Regions from separate parts of the Homo sapiens genome. Here region 2 is linked to region 1. The links come from fine-mapping of genetic effects on gene expression. Tissue or cell type: lung. Region 1 holds a variant in brackets; the other region holds the start of a gene. All regions are shown on one strand. Distances are between the middles of the regions.

The links. PIP is the estimated chance that this variant, and not a neighbour inherited with it, causes the effect.
Region 2: it holds the start of XXYLT1, and the variant in region 1 is fine-mapped to the expression of XXYLT1 in lung (TOPMed, PIP above 0.99).

What each region holds. Positions count from the first base shown.
Region 1 is chr3:195,064,019-195,072,122 of GRCh38, forward strand. XXYLT1 (xyloside xylosyltransferase 1) reads right to left here. Exons shown (of 4, transcript NM_152531.5): 4 at 4,266-6,093. The coding sequence ends at 5,697. Among named protein-coding and RNA genes, the nearest start is that of XXYLT1-AS1, 27 kb to the right of the region's middle. RefSeq lists an enhancer at 4,314-5,513. The variant G/A (reference allele first, on the strand shown) is at 4,285.
Region 2 is chr3:195,267,219-195,275,322 of GRCh38, forward strand. XXYLT1 (xyloside xylosyltransferase 1) reads right to left here and starts at 3,941. Exons shown (of 4, transcript NM_152531.5): 1 at 3,337-3,941. The coding sequence starts at 3,840. ACAP2 (ArfGAP with coiled-coil, ankyrin repeat and PH domains 2) reads right to left here. Exons shown (of 23, transcript NM_012287.6): 23 at 7,527-8,104. RefSeq lists an enhancer at 3,180-3,971 and silencers at 3,222-3,401, 3,562-4,091, 4,342-4,571.

The sequences.
Region 1 (8,104 bases):
ACTGACAGGTTCACTGTGAGCTGAGGTAGCCCCTGACCTACTGGTTTTTGTGGAGTGGCACAGCCAACAAAAATTGGACAGCTTACAAGCATGCATCTGTTCATCCATGGGGTTACGGAGATGCTACCAACACATTTCATGAGCTCCAAAACGGCTGTAATTTATAATTTAAAAAGAATATTCTAAGTAATAATGGTTAGAATTCCCTTACATCTGTATTATTTCACAGCTTACCAAGTCCTTACACATCTTTTCCTCCTTCCACACTCCTTTGAGGAGCTCTTACCAGTGTCTAGAACTGGGGAAAGAGGTGGCCTTGCCTGTCCAAGATGGCCAGGTAGTGAGGGCAGGATGTGGACTCAAAGCCAGGCCTCCGTCTCGGGTGTGAGGCTGTCTCCACTATACCACCTGCTTGCTTGGAAATTTCTGCTCCCTGCCAACCTCCAGATTTAGCCCAGCCCGTGGGCCTCCCATATTAAGATCAGCCAGGAAGTGTTAAAATTAGCAGAGGTTTGGCCTCTAGTCAAAGCAGGTGCCAAGACACAGCTGCACTTACTACCTTAACCTACAAACTCCTGGTGTGCTCTAGGTTGGGCCTGTGAACCAACACATCATACTTTGACTTGATGAAATGCTGTTGAAGGAGAGGCCGCAGTCTGTTTGGTTTGACACACACAGAAGAGCAAATCTCTTCAGCAAGCCTGCGTGCTTTCCAAAGGCCATCATCATTTGTAGGGTGGACTTTGTGTATACACAAAAGATGACAGTATATGAGAAATGAAAGCAGGGTCTGGAGCTGCTATTATTAGATCGCTTTTATTTGGAGAACTGGGGCATCCACAGGGAAGTTGAAGACCCAGAGCCGACTCAGCCTAGATTATGTGTTCTTAGGGGTGACATCGGCCATGGACAGCCGGGAGCTGTAAGACGGCCAGGCTGACACTCACCTGGAACTGGGGAGAAGGGATGTGGTTAAAAATGTACAGCATTTATTATCTTATAATAAAGGTAATTAATACTCGATGTGGAAAATACAGAAATATAGATGAAAACAAAAAGCACCTTAATCCTAGCACCCAGACATGTTATCTTTTCAGATTTCTGTTTTCCTCATATGTACAGGCGTATTCTCGAGAGTGGGTTTCCATGAAGCAAGTTAAGCACAGCACAAGGAACTATGCTTGCATGACAGCAACTGTAACAGGACCCAGGTCAGGAGCTGGCACTCCACGACTTGTCAAGCACGGCAATGGCGAGGCACAGCAAGCCCCGGCTGCTCTGTCAGCGGGCTGGGGTGTGATCTGTGGGCGGGCTGGGGTGCCTGTGCGGTGATCTGTGGGCGGGCTGGGGTGTGATCTGTCGGCGGGCTGGGGTGCCTGTGCGGTGATCTGTCGGGCTGGGGAGTGATCTGTCGGGGGGATGGGGTTTGAACTGTCAGCAGGCTCGGGTGCCTGTGCAGTGATCTGTCAGCGGGTTGGGGTGTGACCTGTGGGCGGGCTGGGGTGCCTGTGCGGTGATCTGTGGGCGGGCTGGGGTGCCTGTGCGGTGACCTGTGGGCGGGCTGGGGTGCCTGTGCGGTGATCTGTCGGCGGGCCAGGGTGTGATCTGTTGGCGGGCCGGGGTGTGATCTGTTGGCGGGCCGGGGTGTGATCTGTCGGCGCTCTGTGATCTGTCAGCGGCCTGGGGTGTGATCTCTCAGCGGGCTGGGGTGCCTGTGCGGTGATCTGTTTGCGGGCTGGGGTGTGAGCTGTCGGCGGTCTGGGGTGTGATCTGTCGGCGGTCTGGGGTGTGATCTGTCGGCGGTCTGGGGTGTGATCTGTCAGCGGGCTGGGGTGCCTGTGCAGTGATCTGTCGGGGGGCTGAGGTGTGATCTGTGGGCGGGCTGGGGTGACTCTGCAGTGATCTGTCGGCAGGCTGGGGTGTGATCTGTCGGGCTCGGGTGTGATCTGTCGGCGGGCTGGGGTGCCTGTGCAGTGATCTGTCGGTGGGCTGAGGTGTGATCTGTGGGCAGTTTGGGGTGCCTGTGCAGTGATCTGTTGGTGGGCCGGGGTGTGATCTGTTGGCGGTCTGTGGTGTGACCTGTCAGCGGTCTGGGGTGTGATCTGTCAGCGGGCTGGGGTGCCTGTGCAGTGATCTGTTGGTGGGCTGGGTGTGATCTGTTGACGGGCTGGGGTGTGATCTGTCAGTGGGCTGGGGTGTGATCTGTGGGCGGGCTGGGGTGCCTGTGCAGTGATCTGTCGGCGGGCCGGGGTGTGATCTGTGGGCGGGCTGGGGTGCCTGTGCAGTGATCTGTCCGCAGGCTGGGGTGTGATCTGTCGGCGGGCTGGGGTGTGATCTGTGGGCAGGCTGGGGTGCCTGTGCGGTGATCTGTCGGGGGGCTGGGGTGTGATCTGTGGGCGGGCTGGGGTGCCTGTGCGGTGATCTGTGGGCGGGCTGGGGTGCCTGTGAAGTCATCTGTCGGTGGGCCGGGGTGTGATCTGTCGGCAGGCTGTGGAGTGATCTGTCGGTGGGCTGGCTGCCTGTGTGGTGATCCGTCGGCGGGCTGGGGTGCCTATGTGGTGATCTGTCAGCAGGCTGGGGTGTGATCTGTCTATGGGCCAGGGTGTGATCTGTTGGTGGGCTGCAGTGTGATCTGTCGGGCTGGGGTGTGATCTGTCCGCGGGCCGGGGTGGGATCTGTTGGTGGGCTGCGGTGGGACCTGTCAGCGGGCTGGGGTGTGATCTGTCAGCGGGCTGGGGTGTGATCTGTGGGTGGGCTGGGGTGCCTGTGCAGTGACAGTCTGCTGTGCACTGGGGGGTTGGAAGGTCGAGGCCACTGGTGACAGAGGGGAAGCTCCTGAGAGGTTTACTTAAAAGTAAATGAGGGATGTTGTTTGGCCTTTGCCCATTTTGACCAACCAGCTTATTGTTTTTTTCTTGCAACAACAAAATACACACATAGCTATAGACACATTTTAATTATAGAAAGGATTGCAGGGAAAATACCTTTATTATTGTGAGTCTAAAATTCTTTAGCCTTTAACTCACTTTTTTCCCGTTGAAATAATTGTTTTTTTAATGTGGTGTTTGAAACACCTATGTTTTTAGAAGTTGAAATACAGCAGAATAGATGCTCTTTTTATACATACGTGTGTGTGTAGGTATGTATCTATACACACGTGTGTACACTGATATACATACACATATATGTAATTTTAAAAATAGGATCGTATTAAACATATGATCTTACATTTTGCATTCTTTATTTAATAGCACATTCTAAGTATTTCCTGAGGCATTACATATTCTTCGAATAATGCCTCAAGTATTCTGTTATATGGATGAAGCATATTATTCATCTACCTATTCCATTCTTTTTTTTTTTTTTTTTTTTTTTTTTTTAAAGACAGACAGAGTCTTGCCCGGTCCCCCAGGCTGGAGTGTAGTGTCGTGATCTCAGCTCACTGCAGCCTCTGCCTCCTGGGTTTGAGTGATCCTCCCAGCTCAGCCTCCTGAATAGCTGGGCGTGCACCACCATGCCCAGCTAATTTTTGTATAGTTGTAGACACTGGGCCTTGCCATGTTGCCCAGGCTGGTCTTGAACTCCTGGGCTCAAGAGATCTGCCGGCCTCAGCCTCTGAAAGTGCTGGGATTACATGTGTGAGCCACCGCGCCTGGCCCCTCTTTTTCACATTTTAAGTTGCTTCCAATTTTCTTCTACTATAAAAAATGTGATAAACATATAGTATATGACTCTGTCCACATCTCTCACATTTTCTTACAGTCGACTTTAGACATAATGACCTTCATGAAGTTTTCATAAACATTATCAATAGCGTAATAAATCCCCCAATACAATGGCTGGTGCACAGCAGGCATTCAAGAATTGTTACCTATAAATAGGAAATCAAGTAGGTGAGAGAACAGACCAATTCTGTCACAGCAGAGGGCTGGGAAAGATATCTGCTCCACCTCTTCAGGGCAGGATGTAACTGGGCAGTCTAGGGTAAGAGGGATGAGAAGAAATGGGGATGCTTTTGCTCCCCAGTGCAGGTGGACCTGCCAATACCTAGAATGAAATGATTCCTTGCTTTGAACCAAACATGCCAATACTACCCTCTCTGACACCCTCTCAGATGTGCCCTCTCCTTGGTCCTTAGGATCTCCTGTAAGCACTCATCTTCATCAGGGGAGGTGGGGATTCCAATGGCATTGAGTACACACTTGATTCAGAGCCTTCATGCAGCTGAAACTGTGATCAGAGAACAAACAACATGAATCACCATGTTCTCAAAGATGATTTATT[G/A]GCTATCCTCACTCATGGGAAAAAGAAAAACGTAAATGAAATCAAAACAAAACAAGATGAAAATTGATACAAATGGACCCCTGGGGCTTTCACGTCTGCAGCCTACGTACAGGAGGCCCCATCAAAAGAAATGACGCTTTAATTTCTGCTAAGGTCTACGGTCTAACGTGGTATGATAAGGGGATTTTTTAAACAAAGAAACTAGAATGCTTACTAGCCCATGAGTGACATGTCTTCCAAGCCCACATGGTCACACTTGGGAATTGCTGGGTTCCTTTTTGGTTTTTTTTTTTTTTTTGAGATGGACGTCTCACTCTGTCGTCCAGGCTGGAGTGCAGTGGTGTGATCACAGCTCAGTGCAGTGAACTCCTGGACTCAAGCCACCCTCCCACTTCAGCCTCCCAAGTAGCCGGGACAACAAGCACAAGCCACCACACCTGGCTAATTTTTAAAATATTTTGTAGCGATGGGGGCCTCCCTGTGTTTCCCAGGCTGATCTCGACCTCCGAGGCTCAATCGATACCCCCACCTCGGTCTCCCAAAGTGTTGGGATTACAGGCTTGACGACTGTGCCCGGCCTGGGCTTTTTGGAATGAGTCTTCCTGGTCCCGACAGTTCTCCTGCATGTCCTTGTGGTGGCCAGTCTCTGTTCTTTGATGACGAATTTGCTTTCTGAGTAGAGTCTGGTCACCTGGAGCTGGTTTGGTGGAATAAAGGACAATGGGGTTCTAGGATGTAGCTGGGAGATACAAGCTGTGAGTACTCTAATAATGAGATAAGTTTTCTTATGCAGGCCCCAGTTGGTCCTGAAGTCCTTCCTCAAAGAGGCGATCCTGAAACCTACACCAAGTGACGTGAGCATCAGGAGAATGCGCGTGCAGCAGCCTCCCAGGGTGAGTATGTGATGGGCTGGCATTCGTTTGGAAGCTTAGATACTGGGCTGGTCATTAAAACCTTGGCTTACCTTACCCGTTTGGGGCTCGATGGGTGCTAAAGCAGTTCTGTTTGTACTTTCTCGAAAAATGGAAGGCTGTCAATTTAAATTAAATTTATATTGGTCCAAAAAAGGCCGGGTCTAAAGGATTTCCATTCCTCAGAGGCAGACAGCAAGGGGGACCCTTTCTCCCCTTCCTTCTCTTCAAGTGCTTGCTTCCCAGCCCACTGGACATGCGTGTCCTTTGTGTCGCCTGCTCCCTGGAGGAATAAGGTCCCAAGCACCAGCAGTGCACAGGCCAGTCCTTGGCGGGTGGCCTCAGCACAGTGACCTGCCCGGCAGGAGGTCTCAGCACCTTAATCACAGGACTTCCCTGCGGTGTCTCTCTAGCGGGTCAGACACTGCCCTTGGGTCTGTCCCAAGGAACCCTGTCCTTCCCCCAGATCTGGAGGCCCCGGGGGCAAGGCACGGGGAGCGCCTAGTCCTCCGGGATGGGAGTGTTGCAGTTCCCGTGGTAGATCTTGACGTGGCCCTCACACCTGAAATAGGCCTCGAAGACGTCACTGTAGCCATGGTCCCTCCACCAGGTGCACAGCTGCCGGTTCCAGGTACAGTCCAGCACATGGAAGAGCTTGGGGTGCTCCATGCCGATCATGGTGAAGAAGTCCTGGTCCCCGAGGTGGCCGCGGAAGTGGTACTTGTCGGCCAGCTGCTGCACCTGCGCCGGCTCCAGCAGGCGGCTGTAGAGCGGGGACTGGCGCATGGCCTCCAGGTTCAGCAACATCACCCCGCTGTTGAAGCCCGGCAGCCCCTCGGGGGGCGGGCCCCCAACCCGGGTCTGGGGGTTCTCATGGCGGAACTGCCAGAATGTGTGCCTGTGGAGAGAGAGGACAGAGTTAGTCCGGTGTGCAGGGGAACCAGCCTGCCGGCCTGCTGCCCTGGGTCTTCACAGCCAGCCTGCATGCAAACACTGCCACATTCCGGGGTGCAGAATCCGCATCACTACACCAGCAAGTGGCAGAGCTGGGACCTGAACCCAGGGCTCTGGACCCCAAGCCTCAGATTCTTTCTACCATCCTCTGCTACGTCCTCACCACAGCCAACATTGATATTATTGACTGAGGATGTACCAGGCGCCATACTAGACCGGCTTACTTACTCCCCACACAACCCCAGGGGATGGGTGCTCTGAGATGATACATCATTTCACAGCCAAGAAAACGGACGCACAGAGAGGTCAAGGTATTTGCCCAAAGTCACACACCTAGTAAGCAGCAGACGCAGGGACTAAACCCAGACAATCTGGCTCCAAAGTCCACATTCTTAAGATAGCAGCAATCTAGGTAGAACTTTCCACCCCCTTGTCTTCACCTGTGATCTTGAAAAGGAGAAGGGAGAGAGAAGCAGGGGACACAATCCTGAACAGAGATCTCATCAAGACGCAGGCAGCTGAACCCTGACTGGAACAGAACTGTTTTCTGCTTTAGAACAAGGCTCATTCATTGAGCCCCAAGCCTGGCACTTCAGAAAGGCTGGGCAGGGGCTGGGGGCCTGCGACAGCCCAGGGCACACCATGGGTTAGGGTGAAAGACAGCTGTAGAAGAGCCATGTAGGATGATGTCTACTTTAGAAGGAATGTCACTTCAAGTTCAATTTTTCTCTCAGCAGATTTAGAAACCAATCTAGGTTCATAGTTCAGGGAGTGTTAGCCTCTTCTAGGTCCTCTACCCAAATGCTTCCATCTGGAGGGGAGAAGAAAGACCTAGACACCTCCCTGTGAGGGCCAGGGTTAAAGCGCTGCACTGTCCTCCAGCCTCTTTAATAGCTAAGCCTCATGTGTGCTGCAAGGGGTGTGCAGGTGGAGGGGAGAGGCGTCCAAGCCCACACCCACAGAGGAGGGGCCACAGCAATCGTGCCGGTGACCTGGAGGAAGGAGGACCATCAGGAGGCCCACTGTGGCAGGGACAGGCGTGGGAGTGGGTCCTCACGGGGAGGACACATCGTGGCAGAACCAGCTCTGCCTCCCAGCCTGGAGATGCTGCCCCACCGGCCCCCGCAGAGAGACTTCCCCACCCAAACCCAGGATAGGATCTGCGTGATGAAGCAGAAGGTACGGGGGAATAAAACCGGAGACCCTGCCCAGGGTGGCCCTGAGGGGCCACTTCTCAGCACCAGCACATTGCTCCGCTTCTGGGAACGGAGGAACCTTCCTCAAGGTCTCACGTATCACAGAGAGTGCCAAGAGTCTGATCCTGGCGAGGGGGAAGCATTCCCTCCGGACATTCTTACAGGGGAATCCACAGGGCCACTGCTTGTGTTCTGCTGTGAGTGGAACCGAGCTCTGGTGCCTGCCTGGTGGTAACAGCCTTGGCAAAAATAAGCTTCTCAAGCAAACTGAGATGCTGTCATCTTGCCACAAAAGTCTGCGGTGATAGGGTCACACAGGGTTGGGATGCAGTGTGGCAGCTGTGTGTTCATTTTACCCTATTTCTTCCCAGTGGTTCATTTCAGGACCAGGTTATAAAGCAGCTAAAATTCTACCAGGCAGACCAGGGCACCATGACATCAGAGAGGAGGGACCCTCTGACTAGGGGCAGTGGGTGCTTTACCACCAAGGAGCTCGATTTACCCTTCGAGGGGTGGGAACGAAGCGTTTACCGAGGTGGAGCAGAGACCCAAAGGGAGGGAGGGCACGAGAAGCAGGGAGGCAGGACCTGTGGCCGCCGAGGTCCTGGACTACCTCATGCTCCACGGAGCCCACGTGTCCATCTTTCTTTACTGTCCAGAGTACCCAGGAGGGAGAGGACTCACCCAGCTGGGGGTGTGGCCCGTGCAGTCTCTTGTGTCCACAGGACCTCACAGGGCACCAGCACAGCAGGGCCACAG
Region 2 (8,104 bases), 200 kb after region 1:
TTGCAGCCATGCTGAGGTCCCAGAGCCAACTGAAGGGAAGAGGAGCCCCCAGGCTATCTTCAGACAGTTCTAACACCACTCAAATCAATTCTCCCTGGGAATAAACTGCCCCCTGGACTTTACAAGACAGAAGTGCTCCTTAAAGGGGAAATACAGCACAAAGGGAACAGCACTGACCTAGGATGCAGGTCCAGCCACAACTGAGTAACTTCTCCAGAAAGCCTTGGGCGAGTTTCCTCACCTGTCATGCTATATACTCCAAATCCCTTCCAGCTCTGGCACAGCCAGAGTGAGAAATTCTAGTTTCCTTCTTCCGAGTCAATACTGAAAAAACAATTCCAGTATAAAATTCCCTCATCTGTCAGGTGCTAGGGAGGCAGCATTTAAGACACGTCAATGTCAGTGCCCTTAAGGAGTTTAGAGTCTAGCAAGGAAGACAAATAATTACTCCAACGATTATATAAATACAACTGTGATAAATGTTACTAAGGAACAGTGCTTGGAGTTTGAAAGTGTGTAATGGGGGCTCAGGAAAGGTTTACCAAGGAAAGAACACCAAAGCCGAGACCTGAAAGCTGAGTACCAAGGATGGAGGCAGGGAGAACTCCAGACAGAGGAAAGGCATGTGACATATGTTCTTTTCAGGAATATTCCAAACCTGAGGAAGAATTAAATCACAAGTAAAATGAAGCAAACCTTTTAGAATCGCACATTTAAAGGAAAAAAAGAGCACTTTTCATCACAAACAGAAAAATTTACAAAATATGAACTCAAAAATCATGGGAATGCCAGGTGCAGTGGTGTGTGCCTGTAATCCCAGCTATGCAGGAGGCTAAGGCAAGAGAATTGCTTGAGCTCAGGAGTTCAAGACCAGCCTGGGCAACATAGCAAGAATTCTTATCAAAAACAAAACAAAACAAAGTAACGGAGGCCAGGCGCGGTGGTTCACGCCTGTAATTCCAGCACTTTGAGAGGCCAAGGTGGGTGGATCACCTGAGGTCAGGAATTTGAGACCAGCCTGGCCAACATGATGAAACCCCATCTCTACTAAAAATACAAAAAATTAGCCGGGCGTGGTGGCGGGCGCCTGTAATCCCAGCTACTCAGGAGGCTGGGCCAGGAGAATCACTTGAACCTTGGAGGCAGAGGTTGCAGTGAGCCGAGATCACACTGTTGCACTCCAGCCTGGGCGACAAGAGCAAAACTCTGTCTCAAAAAAAAAAAAACAAAAAATTTAGCCAGCGTGGTGGTGGGCACCTGTAATTCCAGCTACTCGAGAGGCTGAGGCAGAATCGCTCGAACCCAGGAGGCAGAGGTTGCAGTGAGCTGAGATCGTGCCACTGCACTCCAGCCTAGGCAACAAGAGCGAAACTCCATCTCACAAAAAAAAAAAAGAAGTAACGGGAGCAATTTTATGCCAGGACTGATAACCCCTTATCCAATCACTGACATCTGGCTAGAAGTCCCCAGACACTAAACCCTCACCCCTCAACAGAGGAGGTATCAGTTCCCTCTGGTCATTTGCAGCTGCCTCCAGGCCTTGAGTGAGGCTGCCAGAACTGGGCCCAGTAAAGTGGGGTAGTCCGAGCATGAAACACTTACTCCAAGACAGGAGGGGCTCGGCCCTGAGGCTGGATCTACCCCTGGGCCAATATTTCTGGTGCCAACTAAGAGTGCCAGGCATTGTACATAGGGATGGATGATAAGACATGATACAGTCACAGCACCAGGGAAGTAGAAAAGGAAAGAAGGGACGCTTCCTTGGCTCCAAGGAGGGGATGGTATCTGAAGATGGGCAAGACTTGGAGATGGAGAGAAGGAGCACCCCAACAGTGGGAATGACAAAAGCAAAGGCAAGTAGGCTGGAAAGCACTGGCTGTGCAGCTAGCGCTGCAGCGGGAGCTGGGGACAAGGGGACAGAGATCCGGCAACGGTGCAGAGTAGGCCCAGAAGAGATGACAATGCTATCTTCAAGGCGGTGTTTGGAGACCTGGTCAAATCCCAAGATCTGCCCAGACTGACCCTATGGCCAAGGGCCCTCAGTTTTCTACCGTGAACTAGTGCAAAGTTTCTCAAATATTAGGGTCATTAGGATCACCTGGGACAGGTTGCCAGGCTCCTCCTCCAGCGAGGACCTTCAGAGGTCCCAGGGTCTAGGGACTTTCTCAGGAGAGGTGAAAGCTGAGTAAAGAATGGCCAAGGGCCCAAGAGGACACTGTGGGCAGACAGTACAGCATGTATAAGGCCCACTCCCTACATAGCTAAGGTATGAGGTGCATGTAGACAAAGGAGGAGAGGTGAAGCCAGAGAAGTGGACCAGGCTCACAACACAACAGCCCTACCAATAAACTGGGACTTCACCCCGTAGGCAACAAGGAGCTATCAGAGACTCCCGAAGCCTGTAGGATCCTGGCAACAGCTCCCCTAGTCACTCACATAATACAACTCCTGTCTCAGCATGCTTCCCCAACCAACATCAGTCTCCACCCTTTAATATTACCTACTACTCCTTAAAATCTGGCCTCGGATCCCCTCTGTACAACTATTAGGTCAAAATCAAATAAGCAATTTGACCTAGGCAATTCACACTATGTCAGAAACACATCTCAGACAAGGAGAGCCAGGCAGTGAAGACAGATGATAAACAGAGATGGAAGCTGTCATGGAGGCAGACTGGTCCAGCCTGGGACAAGGCGGCCAGCTGTGCTCTCCCCAGATCATATCTGTTCCTCTTGAGCTTTCTCTTCCTCATTCGGAGGAACTCCAGGCTTCTCTAAATGGGTTCATGACCCTTGGAGGAAGGGGAAAAAGGGACACAGAGAGGAGATAAGATGGTTCACAATGAGTTTGACCAGATCCTACTGAAATACCTTAAGAGCAATGAGAAGTGTCACTGCAACTTCAACACTTCCAGAGGCCTCACCAAGGCCCTCTCCAGTTGCTCAGGATGACTACTGGTGACCAGTCCCATCCTCAGAAGTCAAAAACTGAGGAACATAAACAGAGGTGCAGACTCTGAAGGCAGTGCTGAACCCTGCAACGTTAGCAAAATGGGGGCGCGCGGACTCTCCTGGGGGCTGCGCTTAACTGGGGGAGAGGAAAACGAGGCGGTCATTAAAAACGCAGCTCCACTCCTCAGCACCAGCTGAGGGCGTCTGGCTCCCGGACACGCCCCCGAACGAGCCCTCCCGCAGGTTGTGAACACTACATTGCAAGCGGGCAGCTCAGGGAAGATCCTACCCGCTAGTTCCCCGGATCCCCTCCGGGAGCGCAAACTGACCTCGCCTAGGATGGGGTGGGCCACCCACCGGGAGCCCCCAGCCGCGGCCCGCTCACCTTGCACTTGAAGCCAGCGGCGGGCGGCAGGAGCTCCCGCAGCAGGCCCTTGGCCACCTCGCGGCTGGCCTCCTCGCTCACGAAGTGAAGGTTAAGCACCTCGTGCGCCTCGAACTTGGCGAGGCGCAGCAGTGAGCGCAGCGCGACGCGGGCCTTGGCCTGCAGCGCGGCATTGTGCTCCGCCTTGGTGAACATCATCAGCAGGTGGTAGTCCACCGGCCCGGCACCGCCGCCCTCCAAGCTCTTGGCCTTCGCGCCGGGGGCTGGCGCCACGGAGCCCCGCGCTAGCTCCAGCGCGGGCGGCGAGGGCGCGGCGGGAGCCCCGGCGCGGGCCTCCTTCAGCCTCTTGGTGGCGCTGGAGAAGGTCTCCCGGCCTGAGCCGAGGTAGTAGAAGGCGCAGACGGCCAGCGCCGCGGCCAGCAGCAGGGCGCAGTAGTGGGAGCGCACAGCGCCCAGGCGCGCCATGGCCCGAGCGCATGGGAGCCCGCCTCGGAGGAGGCCCATGCGCTACGAGACCGCGGCGCCAGCGGTGCCAGCAACGCGGGAGAGCCCTCGGGTACCCGGACGCCGGCGGCCACTTAGCCCCGGCGCCAGGCGGCGGCCATGAAAGGGGCGGGGCCGCGCCGCCTGGAGCCAATCGCGGGCGCCGGTGCGCGGAGGGGCGGGGCCGGGCGTGCCGAAACCGCTGGGTCCTAGGTTCCAAGGGTATTAGAGGAGGGGTTAGGGTGGGATCCGGCGCCCGGCGTTGGGAGGGGGGGATTCCGGACTCCAGCGTGCTGAGGGCTGGCCCGCTGTCCCGGCTGAGAAATGGCGCCCTACGCGGCGAGCCCCAGAGGATATCCAAGCTGAGTGTTGAAGGGAATGGAGGCGCCCGAACAGAGGAACTTAGGTTAGCCAAAAGCGAAGCTGGAGGCACCAAGAGGTAAAACTTTAATCTCTGCACCTTTTTTCCCTCAATTTCTTGGAGGCTTTAAGCCGTCTCGGCCTCTCCCTGCACACGAGCTGCAGCTAGGCAATTTAAACCGGCAGCTCCTCCCTTTTCCCCCGCCCTGGGAGGAAATGGCCCGGGCCGCACGTCGCGCCGGAGGCCGAGCGGAGGGAGGCTGGAGGATGTGGCCAGCAGGGGGCCCCCGCCGCCCGCACGAACCTGCGAGGCTGCTCCCCGAGCCCCAGCACCGCAAAGCCCTGGAGGGCGACATTCATCCACTTTTGTTTTATAAACAGACTTTTAACACTTTATCAAGAGCCTCCTTGAGGGTACCAGGGAGTTTTGCACGCCGAGGTCACGTGCCCAAAGTCACACAGCTAGCCAGTAGCAATTTTGACCCTAGGCAGTTGCACACTGCTAACTAGATAAAAACGTACTAACTTCAGTCTTCTAAGAATTGAGGCTATACCAGTAGTTTTTAAGTAAACACGTGCAAGTGCTGTGCATGCTGTCTAAATAGACAAAGAACTTGAGTAAGTACAGTAACCCTTCAGTTCTTTGGCCAAGTTCTCTGATTTCTGACCAGAGATTAGGTAAACGGTTTTTCCTGTTATTTCCACATTGTAAGGTTGCATGGATTATCCAACCTCTCTGCTTCAGACCTTGGCTTACATGTCACTACCTACACAAATGATCTCTAAATACCTCCTATCCAGTGTCTGGGCTAAGTGCCATCCTCAATAATTCTGTGAGGGCCACCTAAATATATGTACTACCCTAGTCTCATCTTTCTTCATTGCAAGAACACGTGACTCCAAGAGAACAGAATATACATTTGTTTTTTATTAACCACAATATACCCAGTACCTAACACGGTGCCTACCACATTGGATGAGTCTCAAAAATATACTCAACCATTGAAACAGCATTTTTATTTCTAGAAAATCTTCCTAATAATTTAAGAATGTTCAAAATATTTAACCATAAGAATAAAGCAAGGCCAAGCATGGTGGCTTAGGCCGGGAATGGTGGCTCACGCCTGTAATCCTAGCACTTTGGGAGGCCGAGGAGGGCAGATCACCTTAGGCCAGGAGTTCGAGACCAGCCTGCCCAACATGGCGAAACCCCGTCTCTACTAAAAATACAAAAAATTAGCCAGACATGGTGGCGGGCGCCTGTAATCCCAGCTACTCAGGAGGCTGAGGCAGAAGAATCGCTTGAACCTGGGAGGTGGAGGTTGCAGTGAGCCGAGATCATAACACTGCACTCCAGCCTGGGCGACAAGAGCAAAACTCTGTCTCAAAAAAAAAAAAAAAGTAGGCAGTGTGGTGGCGGACACCTGCAATTCCAGCTACTCGAGAGGCTGAGGCAAGAGAATCGCTTGAACCTAGGAGGCAGAGGATGCAGTGAGCCGAGATCATAACACTGCACTCCAGCCTGGGCGACAAGAGCAAAACCCTGTCTCAAAAAAAAAAAAAAAGTAGGCAGTGTGGTGGCGGACACCTGCAATTCCAGCTACTCGAGAGGCTGAGGCAAGAGAATCGCTTGAACCTAGGAGGCAGAGGATGCAGTGAGCCGAGATTGTGCCTCTGTACTCTAGCCTGGCGAAAGAGAGCGAGACCCTGTCTCAAAAAACAAACATAAAAATAAAGCAAAGCTAGGTTCATGATGGCAAAAAATCAGAATCAAATGGTCATCAATAAAGTGGTTAAAGCTAAAATAATGCAGTCATTAAAAGTGATGTTTTCAACAAACTGCAGGTGGAAATTTAAAAAACTAACAAATGGGTGAGGTGGCTCATACCCGTACTCCAAGCTATGTGGGAGACTGAGGTGGGAGGATCACTTGAGCTCAGGGGTCCAAGGCTGCAGTGAGCTACGATCGCCACAGGACTCCAGCCTGGATGACAGTGCGAGACCCCAATTCCAAAAAAAAAATAGTAATGGTAACAAATGGAAAAAAAAACCTACAGAGACTAAGAAACATATTCACCAACTGCAACGTATGGAACTTATGTGAATTCTGATTTGCACGATCTATTTTAAAAATCGTATTTGAGAAACCAATTTGAATATTGATTATGTAGTTTTACAGTTTAAGAAGTGTTACGATTTTTTAAAGTCCTCAACTTTTAGATGTACATACGGAATGATTTGCTGGTGAAAGGTCTAGGATCTGGTTCCAAAAAGTCCAGGAAAGGGGAAAAATGGGTAGGAGAACAAATATAAGCCATGAGCTTATAGCTATTGATTTTCTCTACCTGTACATGCTTGAAATTTCCCATAAAGTTCTCCCCATCTATTAAGTGAAAGAAGTGGGTAACTGTATGATCCCATTATATAAATGTATGAATACACACACCCAAAGGTCTAGAAGGGTATACACAAAAAAGTAACAGTATCTCCCTCAGTGCTATCCAGTAGAACTTCCTGTGACAATGTATATATTCTACAATCTCCCCTGTTCAAAACAATAGTCACTAGCCACATGGGGCTATAAAGTTCTTAAAATGTAGCAGTACGACTGAGGAAATGAACTCTTTGTCTAATTCCAATTAAGTAGCCACATGTAGCTAGTGAGTTCCATTTTGGACAGCACAAGATAATGGAATTGTGGATGATTCTCTTGCTTCTTCTTAACATTTCTCCACAAGCAAAAAGCTTTGTGTTTGCAATAATTGAAAAATTAAACTGTTTTCACTTAAAATATTTATAGACTATTGATGTGGGTTCTCCACAGAACTATTCTGAAAATGAAATGAAGCTGAATAAAGCAAGTTATATTGAAAAGTTTATGTGTCTGCTTTCAATTAGCTTTTTTTTTTTTAAAGCAAATGCAGGTGATACACTTCCAGTTTGGTTTTTTCAACCTTCCATTCCTTCAGTCCCAATTCACTGACAAACGTGTGTGTGTCTGTTTACTAAAAGGATAAAATGGGAATGTGCTGCATAGATTAGGAACATTAATGTCAATCATAATGGAAAAAACTTAGAGCAAGCCCCTCCCCCCACCCCCCAAAAAAAACCTTTTATCTTTTTGCCAATGAATTAGGGGCTATAACAGCTCTGTGAACAAAGAGAATTATATACTTAAAAGATCCAAATGGATTTCTTGATTGAAGTAATCAGCAAATAGGATGAATGTGGATTTGAAAGGGCTGGGAAGAAATACCTTAAAAATAATAGTACCTTAAAAATAACTGCTGTTGACAGATATGTTCACAGTGTATTTCACAAGAAAATGTAAATCACCATGAAAGAACTAAGCCAGAGGTGAGATCTTTATTGACTTATTGTAATTTTTTGGCATACAAATTACTTAAGTATATTTACAATTCTTACATAATGTACATTTTAGAAGATAATGTACTTTGCTCCATTTACAATGACAAACTACTGTAAAACTACATTCATGAATTAGATACAAATCCTCTACATACTAATAAAAAGTAAATGGACTGTTGGTTATACATTCTTTAAAATATACCTTTTCACAGGTAGCAAGAAATAGTACATGTAATAAGTCTTTATGACTGGAATGATCCAGAAATATCACAAAGCATGAGTAAACACATATATAAAAGTAGCTCATCATTTCCAAAAGTTAACCTTTAGCCTTTGTGTAAAATAAATGGTGCCAACAATCTTTATAATGTAGCAAGCTTTCCCTGTTTAATATCCAAAAAATGGAGGGTGGGGAGGTTGAAGAAAAATAAGAAAAGTTAGCAAATAAGATAGTGAAAAGACCAATGCAGAGAAAAGTTTATGTAATCAAATCTTGCTTTGTCTCCACATTATCACATTTTAAGTGGATAAATTTATGTAAACAGAAAAAGATGTC